Regions from separate parts of the Homo sapiens genome. Here region 2 is linked to region 1. The links come from fine-mapping of genetic effects on gene expression. Tissue or cell type: whole blood. Region 1 holds a variant in brackets; the other region holds the start of a gene. All regions are shown on one strand. Distances are from middle to middle.

What was found. PIP is the estimated chance that this variant, and not a neighbour inherited with it, causes the effect.
Region 2: OBSL1 starts here. The variant in region 1 is fine-mapped to the expression of OBSL1 in whole blood (TOPMed, PIP above 0.99).

The regions. Positions count from the first base shown.
Region 1 is chr2:219,604,484-219,612,582 of GRCh38, forward strand. It overlaps STK11IP (serine/threonine kinase 11 interacting protein), which reads left to right. Exons shown (of 25, transcript NM_052902.4): 8 at 1,125-1,251; 9 at 1,473-1,576; 10 at 1,712-1,807; 11 at 1,993-2,034; 12 at 2,229-2,375; 13 at 2,570-2,654; 14 at 3,564-3,947; 15 at 4,100-4,305; 16 at 4,614-4,730; 17 at 4,880-5,057; 18 at 7,121-7,351; 19 at 7,472-7,575. Among named protein-coding and RNA genes, the nearest start is that of STK11IP, 11 kb to the left of the region's middle. RefSeq lists enhancers at 579-1,778, 3,784-4,283. The variant C/T (reference allele first, on the strand shown) is at 3,473.
Region 2 is chr2:219,567,163-219,575,261 of GRCh38, forward strand. OBSL1 (obscurin like cytoskeletal adaptor 1) reads right to left here and starts at 4,377. Exons shown (of 21, transcript NM_015311.3): 1 at 3,059-4,377; 2 at 893-1,162; 3 at 556-807; 4 at 111-413. The coding sequence starts at 4,070. It overlaps INHA (inhibin subunit alpha), which reads left to right and starts at 5,148. Exons shown (of 2, transcript NM_002191.4): 1 at 5,148-5,480; 2 at 7,532-8,099. The coding sequence starts at 5,213. RefSeq lists enhancers at 1-360, 2,483-3,320, 3,321-4,158, 4,845-5,139.

The sequences.
Region 1 (8,099 bases):
AACTGAGCCATTTATTGGGACTTGGTAGTGGATGAATTTTGCTGGATGGTGAGAGTGACCAGGCATTTAATGGGGGACATTTCTATGGAAACAAAAAGGGAAACAAAGATGAATGGTTGGAGCAGACTATAAATCCATTTTCTGAGTCCAGAGGGCAGCCAGTTGAGATTTCTAGGTGTTGAGCTCTATGTTTCTTTAGATGGTGGAATGAGGATAGCAGTGGCAACCGATGGATTTCTTCGTTTGTAGTTTGAATGTTTGTGGTGATAGCATAGACAGTGTTGCAGTCACGGTTATTTCCCTGAACAGAGCCTGGAAGATACAGAAGTGTCAGTGGACTTTTTTCCTTTTTTTTTTTTTAATGAGACAGAGTTTCGCTCTTGTTGCCCAGGCTGGAGTGCAATGGCACGATCTTGGCTCACCGTAACCTCTGCCTCCCGGGTTCAAGCGATTCTCCTGCCTCAGCCTCCCAAGTAGCTGGGATTACAAGTGTGTGCCACCACGCCCAGCTAATTTTTGTATTTTTAGTAGAGACGGGGTTTCACAATGTTGGCCAGGTGAGTCTCGAACTCCTGGCCTCAAGTGATCCCCCCTCTTTGGCCTCCCAGAGTGCTGGGATTACAGGCATGAGCCACTGCACCTGGCCGGCTGGGCATTTTAAAAGAGGGCGGCGGGGAGTGGGCAGGGGAATGGTAGGGCCTTGAGCAGAGCTGGGGGAGTGGAAATCAGGTTGGTCCACATGAAACCCATCTGAGTTTGCTAACTAACTGGCACTTACCAAAATAAGGCCCTTACCCTTTCACAGAGACTGGGAGACGGGGCCCTATCTTCAGGAGTTGGCTGAAACAAATGGGAAATTCTTTTGGCAGCTTTGACTTTTCCCAGGCAGGAATTTAAGGGGCTTGGAGTTGCCATGCTCAGGGTGTGGCCTTGAACTGTTAGGAACAGTGCTGGTGTTGTTCAAGTCTTTTAACGTGGGAGTAGGGGTGGATGAAATCATTTGTGCTGAGTGTGTGCAGTTTTATATAGGCCAAGGTTGAGGCCTAGTCCAGAAGAGGTCTCAGAGGACCCTGGCTAGAGTTTGGTCAACGAGATAATCTTTTTCTCCCCTGTACCCCTGCCAGGATTTGTGTGAGCTCCACCATCTGGACATCTCCTATAATCGCCTGCATTTGGTGCCAAGAATGGGACCCTCAGGGGCTGCTCTGGGGGTCCTGATACTGCGAGGCAATGAGCTTCGGAGCCTGCATGGTGAGTGGGGGTGTGTGATGGGGCAAGCATGGAGGGGAAGGGGGAGAGTGAGGCTGGGGCTGGCCTGGGGACCATGTGCCTCTAGAGCCTTGAGAGGGCTTATGGGGAGTGCAGGGGTGCTCTGGCCGGTCTTTCTGCTGCAACCTCCCCCAGTGCATGCACCACACTCACTTGCGTGTACTCATCCACATGCTCTTCCTTCCTTCTTGCGTCCACCCCAGGCCTAGAGCAGCTGAGGAATCTGCGGCACCTGGATTTGGCATACAACCTGCTGGAAGGACACCGGGAGCTGTCACCACTGTGGCTGCTGGCTGAGCTCCGCAAGGTGAGATGGGAATGCATCAGGGGCCTGGGAACCACCCTTGCACGTACCCCCCCATGCTGGTTTGGTCAGTGCCTTCTTCACACAGGGAGGGCCAGGGCCCCAGGCCCTCCTCATTCTCCCCTTCCTGCCCCTCAGCTCTACCTGGAGGGGAACCCTCTTTGGTTCCACCCTGAGCACCGAGCAGCCACTGCCCAGTACTTGTCACCCCGGGCCAGGGATGCTGCTACTGGCGTGAGTGATCGTCCTGTGTCCACTCTTCTTCCCCTTTCCTGCCCAGTCCTCCCCCACCTTGCACCCTCTTGCCATCCCTGGGTGAGGGGCCAAGGACCTGGACCCTGCTTACTGTGTTCTTAATACCTGGAGCTCAGCAGGATGGGCCTACCACATACTCCCTCCCCCTTTTTGTCTTTGCTCAGTTCCTTCTCGATGGCAAGGTCTTGTCACTGACAGATTTTCAGGTCGGTGTGGTTGGGGGGCGAGGACTGTTGGGGGAAGACACGAAGGGAGGGCGCTGGGGAGAGAACAGAGGGCTGGCTGGTGACAGGGTCTTCCTGGTCAGTGGAAAGTAGGGTCCCGCCTTTTGGCTGGCTTGGGCAAGGCAGAGGTGCTCCCAGGCTCCAACCTCTCTCTCCTTCCTGTCGTCACGTGCCAGACTCACACATCCTTGGGGCTCAGCCCCATGGGCCCACCTTTGCCCTGGCCAGTGGGGAGTACTCCTGAAACCTCAGGTGGCCCTGACCTGAGTGACAGCCTCTCCTCAGGGGGTGTTGTGACCCAGCCCCTGCTTCATAAGGTTAAGGTAAGCAGCGTCCTCCGCTGCCTTGTGCCTGCGGTTGGGTGTCTCTCCGGGGACTCTGGGCTACAGTGGGCAGGGAATGGTAGGAACTGTGCTTGCACGTGGTCAAGGTTTCTTTGATAGGTTGGATGGCCAGCCGTGGATGGCAGGGCTGGAGGCTTGGCTTTCACAGAACTTCTTCCCTCCACCAACCTCAGAGCCGAGTCCGTGTGAGGCGGGCAAGCATCTCTGAACCCAGTGATACGGACCCGGAGCCCCGAACTCTGAACCCCTCTCCGGCTGGTAAGTCAGCTTCATCCCACTAACCTCTCTCGTCCCCAGCGAGCTCACTCTAATTTTTAAGTTACAGTGAAGATCTGCTGGAAGAAATGTTATTTTTTGTTGGGGTAGAGTATTATAGAGGGCTTCTTAGTCTTTTTTCTTTTCTTTTAGTTTAGGGAAAGGAGAAGACTGCTTCTGGGAGCATTTTGAAAACTTTTCGAGGAACATTAATTTTGTGGGGTGTCAAGAGATCATGTAGGCCAGGTGCAGTGGCTTACATCTGTAATCCCAGCACTTTGGGAGGCTGAGGTGGGAGGATTGCCTGAGCCCAGGAGTTTGAGACCAGCCTGGGCAACATAGAGAGATGTCCATTTCTACAAAAAAATTTTTAAATTAGCCTGACGTGGTGGTGTGCGCCTGTAGTCCTAGCTACTTGGGAGGCTGAGGCAGGAGGATCGCCAGAGCCTGATAGTTCAAGGTTGCAGTGAGCTATGATCATGCCACTGCACTCTAACCTGGTGACAGAGTAAGACCTTATCTCTTAAAAAAAAAAGTAAAAAACCCCAAAACAAAAGAAAGTGTATATGTATATATATAAAATAATAGGATTGTGGCCAGAGAAGTTTGAGAAATGTGAGGTTGAAGAGAAATAGGTGTGTCAGCTGCCGGCCGTCTCGGGCCCTTCAGGATGCTATCATGTATGCTGAGTCTCTGGAAGTAGCATAGGATGCGCAGCTTGGATTGCATGTGACCACAGGGTTCCATAGGACACGCTTTAGTACATGCCGCGGAGGGGACGCCTGTAGCCTCCCTTGCCCGTGTCCCCATACACAGCCCAT[C/T]GCCCCCTCATCGCTGAGGAGCACCGTTGAAGGATTTGGGGCCATCTGTGTGGGGCAGGCTTGCTCAGTTCTGGGTTCCCCTCCTGCCTAGGATGGTTCGTGCAGCAGCACCCGGAGCTGGAGCTCATGAGCAGCTTCCGGGAACGGTTCGGCCGCAACTGGCTGCAGTACAGGAGTCACCTGGAGCCCTCCGGAAACCCTCTGCCGGCCACCCCCACTACTTCTGCACCCAGTGCACCTCCAGCCAGCTCCCAGGGCCCCGACACTGCACCCAGACCTTCACCCCCGCAGGAGGAAGCCAGAGGCCCCCAGGAGTCACCACAGAAAATGTCAGAGGAGGTCAGGGCGGAGCCACAGGAGGAGGAAGAGGAGAAGGAGGGGAAGGAGGAGAAGGAGGAGGGGGAGATGGTGGAACAGGGAGAAGAGGAGGCAGGAGAGGAGGAAGAAGAGGAGCAGGACCAGAAGGAAGTGGAAGGTGAGCCCTTTGTGGGCTGGGGCGAGCTGAGGCCAGGGGCCCTTGGGATGTTTGTGAGTGGTGGGGCCTGGCGGGTGGAGGGCCAGTTCGGGGGAGGGCAGAGTGTGGGTACTTTCCCTCCCTGCAGGCCTTTTCTCTTGGTCTCTCCACAGCGGAACTCTGTCGCCCCTTGTTGGTGTGTCCCCTGGAGGGGCCTGAGGGCGTACGGGGCAGGGAATGCTTTCTCAGGGTCACTTCTGCCCACCTGTTTGAGGTGGAACTCCAAGCAGCTCGCACCTTGGAGCGACTGGAGCTCCAGAGTCTGGAGGCAGCTGAGATAGAGCCGGAGGCCCAGGCCCAGAGGTCGCCCAGGCCCACGGTGAGTGGGGCGTGGCAGGGTCTCTGGAGGAGCCAGTTATGGGAACATGGCTGTTGTGTGCCCTGCACTGGGCTGGGCATTTCTTTCAGTCTCTCCTTGGCACTAGGAGCCGAGGAGGGGAGCCTCAGAGGTTGCAAGCACTCGGGAAGCTGGGCTGAGGAGCAGGGATTCTGTGCTGGAGCTTGGACGTCAGTACAGGCCTTTGACAGGCTTCAGAGGTCCTGCCATCCTCCATGCTCTCAGCATCCCCTCATCCCTCTGATCACCGCCCCTGCTGTTTTTCACCCGGTCCCCCTCTTGCTGCGCAGGGCTCAGATCTGCTCCCTGGAGCCCCCATCCTCAGTCTGCGCTTCTCCTACATCTGCCCTGACCGGCAGTTGCGTCGCTATTTGGTGCTGGAGCCTGATGCCCACGCAGCTGTCCAGGTGATGGCGCCCAGAGTGGGGGCCCAGGAGGCTGTGGGGATTAAGAGAGCCAGAGGGAAGTGGCAGCAGGCCTGAGGGCCGGGGGCCTGTGGGAGGTGTCCGTCTGGGGTCCGCCTGCTCACAGCTGCCTCTGATCCACCCTCTGTCAGGAGCTGCTTGCCGTGTTGACCCCAGTCACCAATGTGGCTCGGGAACAGCTTGGGGAGGCCAGGGACCTCCTGCTGGGTAGATTCCAGTGTCTACGCTGTGGCCATGAGTTCAAGCCAGAGGAGCCCAGGATGGGATTAGACAGTGAGGAAGGCTGGAGGCCTCTGTTCCAAAAGACAGGTACAAGTCCTGCCCTTGACCTCTCTGCCCACACGCCTCCCCTGTTCCAGGGAAAGTGGCTCTGTGTAGGGGAGTGTGAAGGGGGAGCCCTAGGGAGAAGGGGCTAGAGTGGAGAGCAGTTGTTCTGCCTGGAGGAAAAAGAAAACCGTCTGCCTGCTGCATTTACAAAAAGGAAAACAGAAAAAAAGAAGAAACTATATCCTGTTTTTTTTTTTTTTTTAACTCTAAAAGTCAGGAAATGCAATCTCTGTAACTGTGCTTAAACATACTCATTATTTTTTCATAACTTGAAGGCTTGTTGTGTTGGGGATTTTTTGGCTGATATTTCAGACACTACATAAAACCTAATGAGCCCTCACTGCAGTATTGGATTGTGGTGCTGCCTCTGCCAGCAAGTGTAGCTGTTGAGTGAGATGCTTGGGGAGTTGGCTTGGTTTATCCTTCCCGGCTGACCTTGGAAGGTACATAATGTCCTGTGGCATTTCTTCATGCGCTAGTCCTTAAAACAAGAATTGTTTCCATTGTAGACCAGTCAGCACTATCTTTGAAGAAGACATTGAAGAAGAAATAAATATTCTTGATAACAGCTCTGTGGAAATGCCAGAATTTTATTAGACGGTTTTCTCTTCTTGGCGGCAGCTGGAGCAGGGGTTTAGATTTTATTCAGAAAATGGAGCCCTGCTCCATTCCCCACTGTGAACTGGCCTGGGCATGCAGCCTTAGTGACACAGCGCAAACAGAAACAGCCCCCAGCCCCTCCCGGACCCTGGCTGTACACCATGAGGTGCTGTGGTCTCTGGAGCCTCTTCCATGGTGGCGTTATTAATGAACATTACTGTGGGCTCTGTTCTCCTTTAATTTTTTTTTTTCTTTTTTTTTTGAGACGGAGTCTCGCTCTGTTGCCCAGGCTGGAGTGCAGTGGCACAACCTTGGCTCACTGCAAGCTCTGCCTTCCGGGTTCACGCCATTCTCCTGCCTCAGCCTCGCAAGTAGCTGGGACTACAGGCGCCCACCACCACACCCAGCTAATTTTTTGTATTTTTAGTAGAGATGGGGTTTCACCGTGTTAGCCAGGATGGTCTGTCTCCTGACCTCGGATCTGCCCACCTTGGCCTCCCAAAGTGCTGGGATTACAGGCGTGAGCCACCACGCCCGGCCAACCATTCTCCTTTCACTTGCACCTCAGTTACCTCCTCTGAACAAAGAAGGGAATGAACTCACCCCATGGTGCTGTTACGCTATTTAAATGTGACAGTAAGGCACCAAGCAGAGGGCCTGGCACAACACAAAGGTCTCCTGTAAATGGTAGCTGCTGCCGTTGTCCCCAGCTGTATGGTCCTGGGCAGCATGTGTAAATGATTTAATATTTTCTTTCTTCTTTGCAAAATGGGATAGGGAGAGTTTCTCTGGTGATGAAATGCGATCATAGTGGCATAGGAGGTAGCGCATGCCCATCACGGTGTAGCTGCTCAGAGTGCTGCCTCTCTCATTGCTGATCCATGTCCTGATTCCTTCCCAGCTTCCTGACACTAAGGATGAGTATAAGATAGATGCTATTGTCATCCCTGTTTTATAGACGAGGAACCAGGCTCACAGAGCTTAGATGACTTGCCCATGATTACAGAGCCATTAATTGATGGAGCCTGGAATTGGACCGAAATTTGGCAACAGAGTTCTCTGCCTTTCCAGACCTGTTGATTTTGGTCTTTCAGACGTTGCTAGGAGAGCCCTGAAGTACTTGATCAGCCCAAGTCTGTAAGAGGGCATAAGAGCAGGTCCTGGTTGTGTTTGGCCCAGTCTGAGAGGGCCTAGAGTTAGAAGGTAGAGTGCACTTTGAGGAGTTTGTGGGCCAGGGTTAGCTCATCCCTCCCTGGGGTGGGGAGTGATCAGTTGGCAGCTGTGCCGGGAGAGGGAGCTGGTGGCCTGGGGCGCGGTGGTTGTGTATGAAGCTGGAGGCTTGGGCTCAGGGGAGACCTGAGCATGGGGAAGGAGCATCGTGAGCATGGTGGGAGTTGTGGCACTGTGGGGGGGGCTCATGGGGACCGTGTCCATCCTCCCTCCAGAATCTCCTGCTGTGTGTCCTAACTGTGGTAGTGACCACGTGGTTCTCCTCGCTGTGTCTCGGGGAACCCCCAACAGGGAGCGGAAACAGGGAGAGCAGTCTCTGGCTCCTTCTCCGTCTGCCAGCCCTGTCTGCCACCCTCCTGGCCATGGTGACCACCTTGACAGGGCCAAGAACAGCCCACCTCAGGCACCGAGCACCCGTGACCATGGTAGTTGGAGCCTCAGTCCCCGTGAGTATAGGCAAAACAAGACATAGATGAGTTTGGGGAAGGGAAGGGGCACTGATGGGGAGGTGGAGATGGAGCCCAGGGGCTGCCATGGGCAGGCTGATGCCCCCTCATTGCCCTCAGCCCCTGAGCGCTGTGGCCTCCGCTCTGTGGACCACCGACTCCGGCTCTTCCTGGATGTTGAGGTGTTCAGCGATGCCCAGGAGGAGTTCCAGTGCTGCCTCAAGGTCTGTGCTCCCTGACACTGCCCATGCCCCCAGCTGTCCAGGGTGCCCACTCGTTTCCATCACAGCCAACTGAGTCAGATCAAGCACTCTAGAGACCTGATCTGGCTTCTGGTTTCAACCCCAGCAGCTTCTTGCTGTGTGGCCGTGGACACATTCCCTGGTATTTGAGTCCCAGTTGTTGCCTGTCTGCAATGGAGATAACGATGCCTCCCTTACACAGTGGCGTGCGTCAGGGCTCATGTTGAAGCTGCCCAGCCCAGCACCTGGCACTCATCAATGGGGCCTCCTAGCATTATTATAAACACATGATGTCGTTAGGCCTTTGTTGAGCACCTGTTGTGCTAGACATTGAGGATCTACAGATCAATCTTGCCCTTGATCTTACAGTCTGGTGTGAGAAGCTGACAATGATTATGCAATATGCAAATGCTGTAATCGGGCTAAGGCCCTTGAAGGGGTGTCTAGTCCAGCTTGAGTGGGTCAAGGAACCTTCCTGGGAGGTGATGTCTAAGCTCAGTCTTGAA
Region 2 (8,099 bases), 37 kb before region 1:
AGGTGTGGCAGAGGGCAGAGGCTGGCGGATGGCAAGCCTGTGAGAGGACCAGCACTGAGGGCTGGGGAAGGGAGGAGAAGTGATGGGTGGGTCTGGCAGGACCAACTCACCAAGGTGAGCAGAACCGTGGAACACCACGTGGGGACTACGGCCATGTCCGCTGACTGTGCAGATGCGGAAGCGGTAGTCACCCTCGGAGGGCACACAGTCGCCCGGCACCTCCACGGCTCCGGCTTTCTCGATGCTGAAGCACTGAATCCAGTCTTCAGAGCCCACTTCCTGCCGCTCCAGCCGGTAGATGAATGGGGTCTCGGGAGCTGGCTCGGGAGGCTTCCAGGTCAACAGGACCGTGTTCTTGTGGCCCTTGAACATCTCTGCCAATATGGGGGGTCCTGGGGGACTGTGCTTGACACCTGAGACCAAGGCAGGGATGTGTTCCGGCCTTGCTTGGGCCTCCACAGCCCTTCCACCTTAAATCTACTTCACCAACCCAGCTCCGGCATCTGGCCAACCTCCTGCCCTGCCTCGCCTGTCCAGAGGCCTTCCTGCCCTCACATTTTACTCTGAGAAGCGTAGTGGTACGGGAGTTGCCCAGGCTAAAGGTGACCTCGCCAGCATCCTCTCGGGTGACCCCTGGAAGGACCAGGGCATGCATGTGGCCTGAGCTGCTCTGGCAGATGACCGGCAGCTCCTCCCCATCACGGCTCCAGCGTCCCTCGACCCCGGCCTCTAGAGTTTCCACTAGCAGCACAGCATTCTCTCCTTCCAGGACGTCGAGCTTCCGGGGCAGGCGCTTCAGGATGGGCCCTGAGATGCGGACAGGAATCCATCAACCTGGAATCTGAGCACCTGCCTGCCTCCGCCTCAGCCTCTTCCCCACGGGCCAGCTGACCTTTGACTGTGACGTTGGCCACGGTGCGCACCCGGCCCCGCATCTCGCACAGGTAGATACCATCATCGTCTGCCTTCAGCCTGTGGATGATGAGGCGCCGGACAGTGCCCTCTTCGATCTGCTCGTACTTGCGGCAGGGCAGCAGCCGCTGGTCCTCACGGAACCAGGCCGTGGGGATGCGGGAGTTGGGTACTTTACATTCCAGCACGGCAATCCCGTGCTCACGGCCCTCCACGTCCTGCAGGGGCCGTGTGAACCGGAGGCGGGGCTCTGTGGAGAGGGGAGAGAGAGACAAGAGAGGGCTCTGGAGAAGGCCCAGACTAGGAGTAGGATACCTAGAAGCGCATTAGCTCATGCTGTGTGCTCTTCATGCAGAGCCAGCGGGCACTGTGGAATCACAGAAAACTACCAGAAGGGAAGTGGTGGTTCCTAAGATGACCTGAGTTCTCATCCAGCCCTGACACTAGCCACATCACCTTAAGCAAGTCCATTTCAATGCTTCTGGGCCTCAGTCTCCTTACTTGTAAAATGGGGAAAGGGAGAGAAGGGGTTGGACCAGATTGATGATTTCCAAACTGTTCCCTGGGGTCCTCCAGGCCCTAGATTGGTGATTTCCAAACTGTTCCCTGGCTCCCCCCGCCCCAGTCATTTCACATATTCTGCAAGGGTCTGAGTAGAATTTAAAATATTTTAACTCTTTTTTTTTTTGAGATGGAGTCTCGCTCTGTTGCCCAGGCTGGAGTGCAGTCGCGCAATCTCGGCTCACTGCAACCTCCACCTCCTGGGTTCAAGCAATTCTGGTGCCTCAGCCTCTCAAGTAGAGCTGGGATTACAGGCAGGCGCCACCACGCCTGGCTAATGATTTTGTATTTTTAGTAGAGATGGGGTTTTGCCATGTTGGCCAGGCTGTTCTCGAACTCCTGACCTCAAATGATCCGCCCACCTTAGTCTCCCAAAGTGCTGGGATTACAGGGTGAGCCACTGTGCCTAGCTATTTTAACCCTTTTCAAAAGTGTATTTCAAAAAAAAAAAAAGAAAAGAAAAGAAAACAGGATGTTGGAAATCAGAGGATTAACTAGGGCTGCTGGAGAAGCAAGTTTTTGTGTGCGTGTGTGTATGCAACTCGGGGAAGCTCCTCTAGCCTTCCCTCCGGGCTTTTCTTTCCTGATGGAGGTCCAGATCAGCACCAACCTGATGAATCTGTGAGCATTGAACTGTAACAGTGAGGCCACCACCGCAGCCTGGGGGCAACATGCTTGACTGCATGCTAGGAAGGACTCAGGAGAATTTACCAACTTTTTTTCCTCTAAGAGAAAAAACTGGACAATAACTAGTGAAGGTGTACTCTTTTGCGTTGTGATGAAATCCTATTATGGGGAGCGTTACCTTCTGGTGAGTTTGGGGTGTGCTTTTTTTTCCTTTGGAATTTTCTGTTTATGAGAATGTAACCATTTATTGGATATTGTTGGTGATTCAACTTTGAAATATAAACCTTCTCTCCTTCACCTTCCTCTTCTTGCAAACGTGGGGAGCAGTTTAATCAAAGAATAGTAAAAACACGCAGGACATTTGTCCTCCCTCAAGTCTAGCTTTCCACTGAATCACTTGTTTCTCAAGGTGACAGATGCAGCCAGGCCGTCCCCACAGGGTTCAGAGCCTGGTCTCATGAATGCAGCCTTTAATTCAAATTCCTGTATTCAATAAAATAGCCTCCTTATTCTCACTGATGGTTTAGAAGTACCTGTTATATACGTAGACTCAGCAATTTACGCCCATAAACTACTCCTTTATCTGTCTCATATATTGGGGCTCTGGTTGTGAATTCAGTGGGGGAAGGAGGAGTAAAATAACAAAGACGTTGAAAACCACTAGGGAAGAAGAGTTCTAGGGCCCTCCGGATTTGTACATCAATCACTCCTTAGTGGTGTTCCACCATCTGCCTCGGAATCATTTAAGGAGTTTGCTAAGAAGTTCCTGAGTACCCTGGAGACCTACTAAATCCGAATCCCTGGGGAGTGAGAGGCGGGCGGGTTTGGTATTTTAATATTCCCGCGGACCACCTCTCCTCCAGTCTTGGGGGCAGCGCTGGGCACCGAGGAGGGCTGGAGTTCGGAGGGCCTCGGAGGACACTCGAGGCCCCTCCCTAGGTCCCGGGCTCCGCCGTACCTTTCACGTGCAGCTGCACGGCACTGAGCGTCTGGCCCGCCGAGTTGCGCGCGGCGCAGACGTAGAGCCCACGATCCTTGGCCTGGCAGTAAAGCACCTTGAGCACGAAGCCGCCGTCGCGGTCGCGGTACATGAGGCGGCGGCGGTCCGGGAGCAGCGGGCGGCCCTCCCAGTGCCATTCGATCTCGGGCTCGGGCTTGCCCATCACGTAGCAGCGGAACTTGGCGTGCTTGCCCTCGTTCACCCAGAAGGTCTTAGGCGCGCACTTGAGCGGCTCCACCACCGGCGCGGGGGCCTCGTCGGGGTCCGCGGGCGGGCTCTCGGGGGGCTGGTGCACCTGGAGCAGCGCCCCCGCCTGCGCGTGGCCGTGCGCGTTGCGGGCGTGGCACACGTAGACGCCGGAATCCGGCAGCCGAGCCGCCAGGATGCGCAGTGCCAGGCTCGCGCCGGGGCCGTCCTCGGCGCGGCCCGGCTGGAGCGCGAAGTGGCTGCTGTCCCACACTTCGTCCAGGGCCATCCCGTCCTTCTCCCAGTACAGTGTGGGCTCGGGGAGGCCCCCCGCCCGGCACGTCAGCACCACCTCCGCCCCCCGCAGCACCCACTGGGATCGAGGCCCCGTGAGGAAGACCGGGGCGCCCTCCCCGGACCCCGGCGATGGCAGCGGGCGCTCGGCGGGCTGCAGCTCGGGGTCGGAGGCCGGCGGCTCCAGCACGGTGACGGCGGCCGCCGCGTAGGCCTCGCCGGCCGCGTTGCGGGCGCGGCACACGTAGACCCCCGCGTCGGTGGGCAGTGCGGCGGTCAGCAGCAGGCCGTGCTCCGCGCCGTCCGCCGGGAAGCTCAGGCGTTCCGAGGCCGCCAGCTGCTGCCCGCCCTTCTCCCACACCACTACAGGCGGCGGCTCCCCCAGGACCACGCACTTGAGCTCGGCCTCGGCGCCACTTACCACCCGCACAGGCCGCGGGAAGCGCAGGAAGCACGGGGGGCTCCCCTGATCCCCCGAGCTCGCCTTCATCGCGGCGGCCGACCGCCTGCAGCGGCGAACGGTGGGGGGGCAGGGGGGGGTGCGGAGGGCGAGCCGAGGCCCGGGGCGGCGGGGTCGGGGCGCGGCTGGGGACTGGGCGCGGGGACCCGCGGAGCTCTCCCGGGCCTCCCGCTCCCGGCTCGCCTCCTTACCCTCGGCCCCGAGCTGCAGCTCTGCGGCGGCGGCGGCGGCGATTCCCGGGCCCGAAGCCTGGCGCTCAGGGGGCAGTCCTTCCTGTTTGCCTCTCCAGCGAGTGGCCCCGCAGCCTCCCCTGCCCGCTGCCTGGCTTCCTGCTCTTAGGAGCCTCTCTTCCCAGCCCCCTCCCACAGCTTGGGCCTCTTCCCCCTCCTCCCTCCCACCTCCAGCCGCCAGGTCCCCAGCCGCCCGCCAGGCTTGGGCCTGAGTGGCAGAGGCGCCTGCAGCTGCCAATCCCAAAAATATTCTCTGATGACACAGCTGGAGGACAAGAGCCCAGACTGGCTCCACTGGTCTAAGTATAGAGCAGGCAGGACCACCTGCCCCCGGCCCTAGCCCCGGTTCTAGCCCCGGTTCCAGCCCTGCCCCCAAGGGCTGGCCGGCCAGCAGCTGCTTATTGAAAGGGGCCCCAGAAGGTCTGAGGGGTGATGCACTTTGTCTCCCTGACAAATAACACTTTCTGGGGCTGGCCGGCTACAGCTCCCAGGCTCCTGTCCCACCTGATGTCACCTCTGGATGTGTCTGTGTGTGTGTGTGTGAGAGAGTGTGTGTGTGTGAGAATTTGTGTGTGTGTGAGTGTGTGTGTGAGTGTGTGTGTGAGTGTGTGTGTGTGTAGGGAGAAGGTGTTGTATGTTTGCATGTGTGAGTCAGGTCGCTTGAGGCGAAATCCTTCCCAGCCCCTCCCCCACATCCCTGGCGGGAGTGGGAGATAAGGCTCATGGCCACAGACATCTGCGTCAGAGATAGGAGGTCTCAATGCCACGGGCAGGGGCAACTCGGACTGTGGGGCGTGGAAAGGACTGGGGAAGACTGGATGAGAAGGGTAGAAGAGGGTGGGTGTGGGATGGGGAGGGGAGAGTGGAAAGGCCCTGGGCAGACCCTGGCAGAAGGGGCACGGGGCAGGGTGTGAGTTCCCCACTAGCAGGGCCAGGTGAGCTATGGTGCTGCACCTACTGCTCTTCTTGCTGCTGACCCCACAGGGTGGGCACAGCTGCCAGGGGCTGGAGCTGGCCCGGGAACTTGTTCTGGCCAAGGTGAGGGCCCTGTTCTTGGATGCCTTGGGGCCCCCCGCGGTGACCAGGGAAGGTGGGGACCCTGGAGTCAGGCGGCTGCCCCGAAGACATGCCCTGGGGGGCTTCACACACAGGGGCTCTGAGCCCGAGGAAGAGGAGGATGTCTCCCAAGCCATCCTTTTCCCAGCCACAGGTAACGAGGGTGGGGGAACCGGCAGGATGACTTTGAGAAAAAGCAAGGCACAGCATGGGTTTGCAGGCCAGGCGGACCTGGGTTTGAATCCTAGTCCTGCTACTCAGTTGCTTTGCAGCAATAGGCCAGTTACTAAACTTCCTTATGCTTCTGTCTCCCCATCTGTAAAATGGGCTAATGCCCACCTCTCAGGATTAAGTGAGAGGCTGTACCTAGAGTGCATGGCAGGTGGGAGGCATTTGGGAAGTATGCGCTGGGAGACCGGGGGTCTCTAAAGATGGAGATATTTGGGCTTGAGCCCCTTCCTGCCACCTTTCCTCCTATCTCTGCCTCTGCTCGCTGCTCCAAACCCTGTTTCTTTACTCCCAGGTAGCTGACACTGAGAAGCTATCAGAGATACAGGCAAAAGATTAGTTGGGAAACTTTTCTGGAAAACTAGTCTATCTTCTCTTGAGTTCCTGTCTCAACATATATGTGCCCCCTTGTTCCACTGACTGAATGGATAAGCCCTCCTGTGGGTGGGCTTTCTTGTCATCTGGTCCACCTTTCTCTTAGAGAGGACCCCTGCCTCCCTCACTTCAGTCCGTTCGCAGCACAGTGGGGAGAAGGATGGCTTTGGGATCAGGCAAAATCCAAGCCTGGCCACTTAGTCGTTGAACGTCATTTCACCTCTCTAAGCCTCAGTTTCCTTATCTGCAAAATGGACCAATTGTGACTAGATAATGAGAGAAGCCATGTAACAGTATAGTTCCAATTGCCAGTCCATGAACGAGTGCTGCTCCAGGATGATTAGTATAGTCTATGAGTGTGTCAGTGTGAGGATGCTAACTACACATTCTTGAAAGGACTGCCCTCTGTTCTGAGTTACAGCCCTCCTCCTTCTCTTCCCCCTCTTCCTTGTTCTCCATTTTCTTCCCTTTCCCACTTGCCTTTCCCTCCTTCTTCTTTTTTTTTTTTTTTTGGTGTAAACCTGTCTTTTAAAAATGGAATTATTTTAAAGAATTTATCCTACAATATTCCTGACATGCCAAAGATATAAAGAGTAATATAGGCCGGGCGCGGTGGCTCACGTCTGTACTCCCAGCACTTTGGGAGGCCAAGGCAGGAGGATCACAAGGTCAAGAGATCGAGACTATCCTGGCTAACATGGTGAACCCCGTCTCTACTAAAAATACAAAAAATTAGCCAGGCATGGTGGCACCAGCTACTCGGGAAGCTGAGGCAGGAGAATTGCTTGAACGTGGGAGGCGGAGCGGAAGGCAGAGGTTGCAGTGAGCCGAGATGGCGCCACTGCACTCCAGCCTGGGCGACAGAGCTAGACTCCATCTCAAAAAAAAAAAAAAAATGGTAATATGGCTGGGTGTGATGGCTCACGCCTATAATCCCAGCACTTTGGAAGGTGAAGGCAGGCAGATTGCTTGAGCTCAGGAGTTTGAGATCAGCCTGGGCAACATAGCGAGACCCTGTCTCTACAAAACCCACAAAAGTTAGCTAGGTGTGGTAGCACACGCCTGTGGTCTCAGTTACTCAGGAGGCTGAGGTGGGAGGATTGCTTGAGCCCAGGAGGTAGACGCTGCAGTGAGCCGTGATCATGCCACTGCACTCCAGCCTGGGTGACACAGTAAGACTCTGTCTCAAAAAAAAAAAAAAAAAAGAATATAACAACCATCCATGTAGACACCATTCAGGATACTGTTTCACACTATCTGGTGAGTAAGCATTGAAGTCTAATACAAAGTCTTAGTGCTGGTGAAGTGGAGAGAGGGCCTCTTACACACTGCTGATGGGCATGTTAATTGGTAAAACCACTTCAGAGAGAAGTTGGCAATGTCTTCTATTTTTTTAAGTCCCTTCATGATGAAATTAAAAAATGGGAAGCCTACAGAAGCTCTCCCAAAACTCAGGAGAGTCCCCACGTCCCGGAGGGCGTGGAGCAGAGTGCAGCCCATCATTGGCTCATGACTGGTGGCCACATCCCTCCTGCTGAAGAGGAGGGGTGCCAGGTCCTGCCAGTCAGGGCTGCCCTCTCCCTTTTCTTCTGTCTCCTGCAGATGCCAGCTGTGAGGACAAGTCAGCTGCCAGAGGGCTGGCCCAGGAGGCTGAGGAGGGCCTCTTCAGATACATGTTCCGGCCATCCCAGCATACACGCAGCCGCCAGGTGACTTCAGCCCAGCTGTGGTTCCACACCGGGCTGGACAGGCAGGGCACAGCAGCCTCCAATAGCTCTGAGCCCCTGCTAGGCCTGCTGGCACTGTCACCGGGAGGACCCGTGGCTGTGCCCATGTCTTTGGGCCATGCTCCCCCTCACTGGGCCGTGCTGCACCTGGCCACCTCTGCTCTCTCTCTGCTGACCCACCCCGTCCTGGTGCTGCTGCTGCGCTGTCCCCTCTGTACCTGCTCAGCCCGGCCTGAGGCCACGCCCTTCCTGGTGGCCCACACTCGGACCAGACCACCCAGTGGAGGGGAGAGAGCCCGACGCTCAACTCCCCTGATGTCCTGGCCTTGGTCTCCCTCTGCTCTGCGCCTGCTGCAGAGGCCTCCGGAGGAACCGGCTGCCCATGCCAACTGCCACAGAGTAGCACTGAACATCTCCTTCCAGGAGCTGGGCTGGGAACGGTG